Regions from separate parts of the Homo sapiens genome. Here region 1 is reported to be linked to region 2. The links are microRNA targets in miRTarBase. Many come from high-throughput screens and were not tested one by one. Region 2 holds a microRNA gene; the other region holds the end of a gene's coding sequence.

What was found. Region 2 holds the annotated microRNA hsa-miR-370-5p (CAGGUCACGUCUCUGCAGUUAC, at 1,300-1,321, shown strand). A microRNA usually pairs through its seed, bases 2 to 8, with sites in the 3' UTR of a target mRNA and lowers its output. Matches are read on the target gene's strand: a 7mer-m8 pairs with bases 2 to 8, a 7mer-A1 pairs with bases 2 to 7 and ends in A, and an 8mer does both.
Region 1: the mRNA of NLN is a reported target of hsa-miR-370-5p. Seed matches in the 3' UTR shown: 8mer at 2,637-2,644 and 7mer-m8 at 2,330-2,336.

The regions. Positions count from the first base shown.
Region 1 is chr5:65,822,669-65,825,729 of GRCh38, reverse strand. It overlaps NLN (neurolysin), which reads right to left. Exons shown (of 13, transcript NM_020726.5): 13 at 1-2,949. The coding sequence ends at 2,815. Among named protein-coding and RNA genes, the nearest start is that of NLN, 100 kb to the right of the region's middle.
Region 2 is chr14:100,909,852-100,912,978 of GRCh38, forward strand. MIR370 (microRNA 370) reads left to right here and starts at 1,288; the gene lies at 1,288-1,362. MEG8 (maternally expressed 8, small nucleolar RNA host gene) reads left to right here. Exons shown (of 51, transcript NR_146000.1): 8 at 382-453.

The DNA of each region.
Region 1 (3,061 bases), not on the chromosome of region 2:
ATTTCCTCAATTTTGGTATCTCCCACAATGCAATTTTTCATCCGAAGAGCTACAGATATCCACCTCTCACCTTATTAGCTTTAGAAAGGCAAGACCTTGGCATAAGTAGCTCAGGTGATAACTCAAGGCAATTTTTAGTTGTTTATCTAGGTAACATGCAACATTTATACTAGAGGGGGACAAAGTCTACATCAGGTGGCAAAACGTCAAGACATTTCTCTTCTCTGCAGCATCGTAAAACTAAACCTTTAGGATCATGCCTACTATCCATTTGCATAAGATGTTGAAGATTTTATCCTTCACAACATAACAATGCCTAAAAAAAAAACAAAAAACCCGAAAGAGGCCTAAATCCCCTGGATCAATTACCAGGAGAGACCTTATTATATGTGGCTCAGTCCATAAATCTAAAGTGTACATTTGTCCAATTACAATTTACATAGTTATCCACCATTTCAAGCATGTCAGTGATATTCTCTGCTCTGATCTGGAAAAAAAGAACAACTAGACGGATGACCACACTAAAAAAAAAAAAGTTAAGTCCTTTCTTTTGAATTATGCTAGAGAATTTTTAAAAAGTCCTTTCTTTTAAATTATGCTAGATAATTCTTTGAGTATTAATTTTTTTTGAGACTGAATCTCACTCTGTCGTCCAGGCTGGAGTGCAATGGCATGATCTCAGCTCACTGCAACCTCCACCTCCCGGGTTCAAGCTATTCTCCTGCCTCAGCCTCCTAAGTAGCTGGGACTACAGGAACCCAACATCATGCCCAGCTTTTTGTATTTTTGTAGAGACAGGGTTTCACCATGTTGACCATGCTGGTCTTGAACTCTGACCTCAGGTGATCCTCCTGCCTTGGCCTCCCAAAGTGCTGGGATTACAGGCATGAGCCACTGCGCCCGGGCTGAGTTTTAATTTTGTGACTGCTCTTTGGTAGATTTTAAATATTAGAGGTAGGCCCTAAATAGAAAGAACACCATGGTGCTTTTGCTCTCATGCATTTCGGTTTTAACGTTAAAGTATGAAAGAAATATGAGTTCATTTTCATGGATAATAATATAACTTTATTGTGTGCAGCCTTTCCACACCAATTTAGTTTTTCTATGAAATAAGATTTCAAGTGGTAAAGTTACTGTTAAGGAGACACACTGGAAAAAGCTGAAGAGTTTTTTTGTCTGAAACTGAAAAACAGAAAAGTCTAGGGGGAAAGATGTGAGAAAACTACTATAGGCTACAAAGACCACAAAAACAGTTTTGGGGATTAGAAGGGGGTGACATTGAGTGAGTGTGTGGGAAGAGAAGGGCTGGGCAAATTATCTCAGAAGAGGGGGTAGTAGGATTTCAGGTGGATGTTTAAGGTATTTGCTTGGCAGATATAATCTAGGAATCTCCTAGCTCTTGCATTTCCTGCTATCTGTAACTTTATTATGTAGTATAATAATTTTTTATTTAGCACAAAGTTCATTTGGACTAGAGAATCGGAAGGTGCTAATTTTGTCCCCGGCTAGCAAAGTCATACCTGAGGTATGCGCTGGAAAACAACTGGAAGACCTAGGCAGGGGAATTCAAAGTTGTTTTTTTTTTAAATTTTATTATCCTGTCTTGGTTTCCTTATTGAATAGATTTCCACAGGAAAAATACTGTGAGTTTACTGATCTGCTGCAGAATTGGAATTTAGACTCACAATAAAGAGAGTTAAAGATAGATCCAAAGGTTCACTTAAAATAAAAATCACCAGACAGAACAGGCTACTGAAGAGTCTCTTCCCCGTGGTTAAGTTTCATCATACACATAAGGCTTTGGAGCAGCTGTCCTCAAATGCTTCTATCCAAAACCCACTCCTCTTCTGGAGTTTCTGAACCCTTTATGTTCCACATCCACCTCCTCTCTCTTCCCATGGCTCTCTACAGAGCCATTTGTGACATGTCTACCTGACACTTTTGGGGACGTGGTAAGTAAAAGAGGCAAAGTCCCTAACACTTATTAGAAACGTGAGAAGAGAAAAATGTGCTTGGACTTGCTTTAGTATTCTAATTGGCACACATGCCAAAAGACTAACGATCTTGTATGCTGAGGTGGAAATGAGCCTCTAATAAAAGCTACGAAATCCTCTAATACAAGATACAAAAACTTATACATTACACCAGTCTAGCTGAAACATAATTTTTTGATACTCTTTGACTGAACTTTAGACAGAAAAGACAAAACTGAAATGGAGGAACGTAATTTAAGTGTGGCAGAAAGTTGGGAATCATGCGGCCTGATATACAAAGATAAATGCATCACTGAGGCATATTCCCCTGGCCTTGAGGTATGCAGGCAAAGGAGAGGTCACACCTTCCTGGGAGACAAAGGATCAAAGTTGACACAGAGCTCCAAGAAAATATTTACCAGAAGAATGTGATGATTCATTTATCAGTCCAGAAATCCCAAGTACAAAACTTCAAGATACAAGAAGGATCAAATTATATCATATATATGATTCAATTTAAAAATTCTTAGCCCTCTTATATCATATTATCTAGATTATAATAGTAAAAAATCAAGTTACATTCATATGAAACTTTCATAAAAAGAAATCAAATCCAGTTTTATGAAATTTTATAGTACAATTACTTTCTAGTGGGTCTTTTCTTAGGTCACAGTATTTATAATTCCATTTACATCTTTATAATTTTTAAAATTAGAAAACAAAAGGATGTCAATAGAAATCTAAATTTTCACTTGCAAAACTCCCTTCAGTTTCCAGGCCAGTAACACATGGTGATGTCGACTTGTCCTCCAGACATGGACGGCTACCAAAGATCCCCAGTTCACGGAGCATGCAGGCCTCTACTCATTAGGAACGCTTTTTGGTTTGGCTCACGTTTCAAGAAATTGTGGAGCATGTCCATGCCGTCCAGAGATCCCCCAGGTTTCAGGATTAGGTTTCTGTATTTCATTCCAACCTAATAAAATAAAACATCATACCTAATAATTCATGGTTCTAGCAATTTTCCAAATCTCTAGATGCAAAAGAGGAGAGGGTAGGGGTGAAGGAAAAAGGACTTTAGCCTTACT
Region 2 (3,127 bases):
CCGTGAGGCCTCCTCCCTGGTGTCACTCCCTACCCCCTTCCTGCTTTATTTTCCTCCCTAGTTCTTACCACCATCTTTTATCCCATGCATTAGGCTTACCTTTTCTGATGATTTTCTGTTCCTATCTCCACCCACAGGGATGTTAATTCTCATGGAACCGGGATCTGTCCGTTTTGCTCACTACTGTATCCCTGGCACTTAGACCCAGCAACAATACAAAGTGCATGCTCAGAAATTTTGGGGAAAAATTTATGAGATACTATTGAATTGTATCCACCCCAGAGGAGTGTCAATGTATGCAAAGTAGGCAGTGTGGTGCTTGGTACAGAGTATGCATTCAATAAATATTGGCTAATTATGATTATTATGTCTAATTCACAGGACTGTTGTGAGAATCAAACGAGATAATGTATGCTGAGGCATGCTGTGAACACTACGTGCTGGGTACAGGAGGTACAATATTAATGATCCCTGCTGCTTGGAGGGAACTTGCACTTAAAATGTTATGCTTTTCATTTTCACACCACTTAGGAGGGAGGAAAGGCTGGTGGGACGATCGCCACCTGAGGCTCAGGGAGGGGACAGGCCTTCTCCAAGGCCTCACAGTATGAAGAAGGCAGGGGCAGGTCCCCACACTGGTGGTCTTCCCACGACTCCCTCATGACAGTCCCCCAATGGACAGATTGATGTGTAAATGACGTTATACACCTACACCATAACTCTATATAATATATAGAATTATTTTCAGGTCCCTGAGTTGCTCTGAGGCCAGTTGTGGCAGGTGGTACACACCCAGGACAAGCTGGGGGGAGGGGTAAGAAGGAAACTGGCTGTGTATCTTTGGTAAGGCCCATAGTGAAGCCTCTTTTGGTTTCTTGGAATCAAGTTGAACATCAAGAATCTCACTGCATAGACTTCCCCAAGGGCAGTCCCACTTCACAAAATGAATTTTCATTTTCCAAAGCACATCCCTTAGTTGGATTTCTGTTTTTCAGTGTATTTGTTTAAGCTCTGATGCCATGTCCAAAAAAGAACATGCCCGAACAATTCCCTGCCCGAGTCCCAAACCCTTGGCTTGATCTGAGCATTGAACTAATTCATTTCTTTGATCAAACTGGGGACTGTTTGAGCAGTGGGCTGGGCGTCATGGGACGGGGAAAGGGTGGGGTGTGCGCAGGTGTGCAAGGCGGGCTACTTGAGGGATGGGCGATAGTTCAGGTCACCCTCCGGTTGGACCCACGAGGGCGCTGCATTCCTCATTCTACAAACCGTACAAGTCGGGGCACAAGACAGAGAAGCCAGGTCACGTCTCTGCAGTTACACAGCTCACGAGTGCCTGCTGGGGTGGAACCTGGTCTGTCTGTCTGTCTAACACCAGAGCTCGGGCGCTGCTGCAGAGGGAGCCAAGATTTGGGTGAGGGAGGGGGCTCAGAGGTGGGATGGAGGGTTTTTTTGTATTTTTTTTTAACCTGGTTGCCATTGGCTTGAAAATAATAACATAACTTTGCTTGGGGACCCCCCACTGCAACTATCTTGCTGATGGGGAAACAGGCACAGAGACGTTAGTTTGCTTTGCTGATGTCACCCAGCTCGTCTGGCATTGAGGCTGGATTTGGGAGGTGGGTACTGAGGTGTGAGCATATGTGCTGCAACCACTGGGCCCACTGGCTCGTGGTGTGTGCGCAGGTGCAGATGGCTCAGTGATCTGGGTTTGAGGGCTTTTACCAATCCCCCCAGCAGTGGGTGTACTCTGAACTCAAGCTTGTGTATTTCACACTCTCCCTCGACCCTTCTCTTTAGCCTTCACTGAAAACTCCTGCAAGCCACTGACCCATGGAAAATATTTAAGAATACATATATTACATATATGTTGTAAATTTATATATATATATATCTGGAAAGGGATTGTATCCAGGAGATTTGGGAGTGATTGTTTAAGGTAGAGGGAGGCAGGGGCATGAGAGGGGGAGGGATGGAGGTGGGGACCACCAGTGGTAATTCTCGTGGGTGGTTTTAACAATCAATACAAGAAGAGAGAGACATGCCAGCAGCAAGGACGGGAGTGGGTTGTAAACCAGGGATGGTGATTAATTCTTCACAACTGAGGGGCATTAAAAAAAGAAATCAGAGTGGTTCGTGGCTATTAATTTTGTTATTAAAAATAATCAAGGAATAAAGAAATAAGGTAATAAAGGCCTCGAATGGAACAATTCTGAGAATGTGTTCTGGGCAAAGGATTATGACTAATCCAGGTCTGGTAACCTGATATTAACAAACAAAAAAGGCCTCGTAGGCTATTTTCTTTTTTTAACCGGCTTTATGTTCCATAGAATGGGCACACTGGGGTTTCTCTCCCAGAGAAGGTGAGTGCAGACAAATAAAAGCCGGCTTTGTGGGTGTTGATTGAACAGTTAAAAATGAATGAATGCGTAAATAAAACCAGAGACAGCCAAGCATGTACCAATGATGGCAATGTGTTCCTCACTCCCCAGCTTTATAAATATATAATTGATAAATCAGTATTGTATGTATTTGTATTGTATTTAAATTGTACAGTGTGACATTTTGATATACATATATATTGTGAAATGATTACCATAATCAAGCGAATTAACATACCCATCACCTCATGTAGTTCCGTTTTTCCATGTGTGCAGTGAGAATACTTAAGGTCTACTCTTTTAGCAAATTTCAAGCATGAAATACATTATTGTTAACTATAGTCACCGTACTCTGCATTGGGTTACCAGAACTTACTCCTAACTGCATCTTACTCCTAAGTTTGCATCCTCTCACTAAGATCTCCAGATTCCTCTCACTCCTGACCCCTAGTAACTACCTTTCTAGTCTCTGCTTCTGTGAGGTTATTCCAAAACAAAAGCCAGGTTCTAGGCTGTTGAGGCTGAGGGTAGGAAGTGTATCAACAGGTATACAGAATAGTCACTGGTCTTGGGCTAAATGGTGACTTCAAGTGTAGTGGCTGCATAGTCAAAAATGAATTAGATGAGTACAAAAGTGACGAAATGAAAGAATGTCAAGAATGGACCACAAAGACAGTGTTTTATGACCTAAAGATTAAGATTTATCCATTTGTGTACAATTGTGGACTATATAAAATAAAACAAGA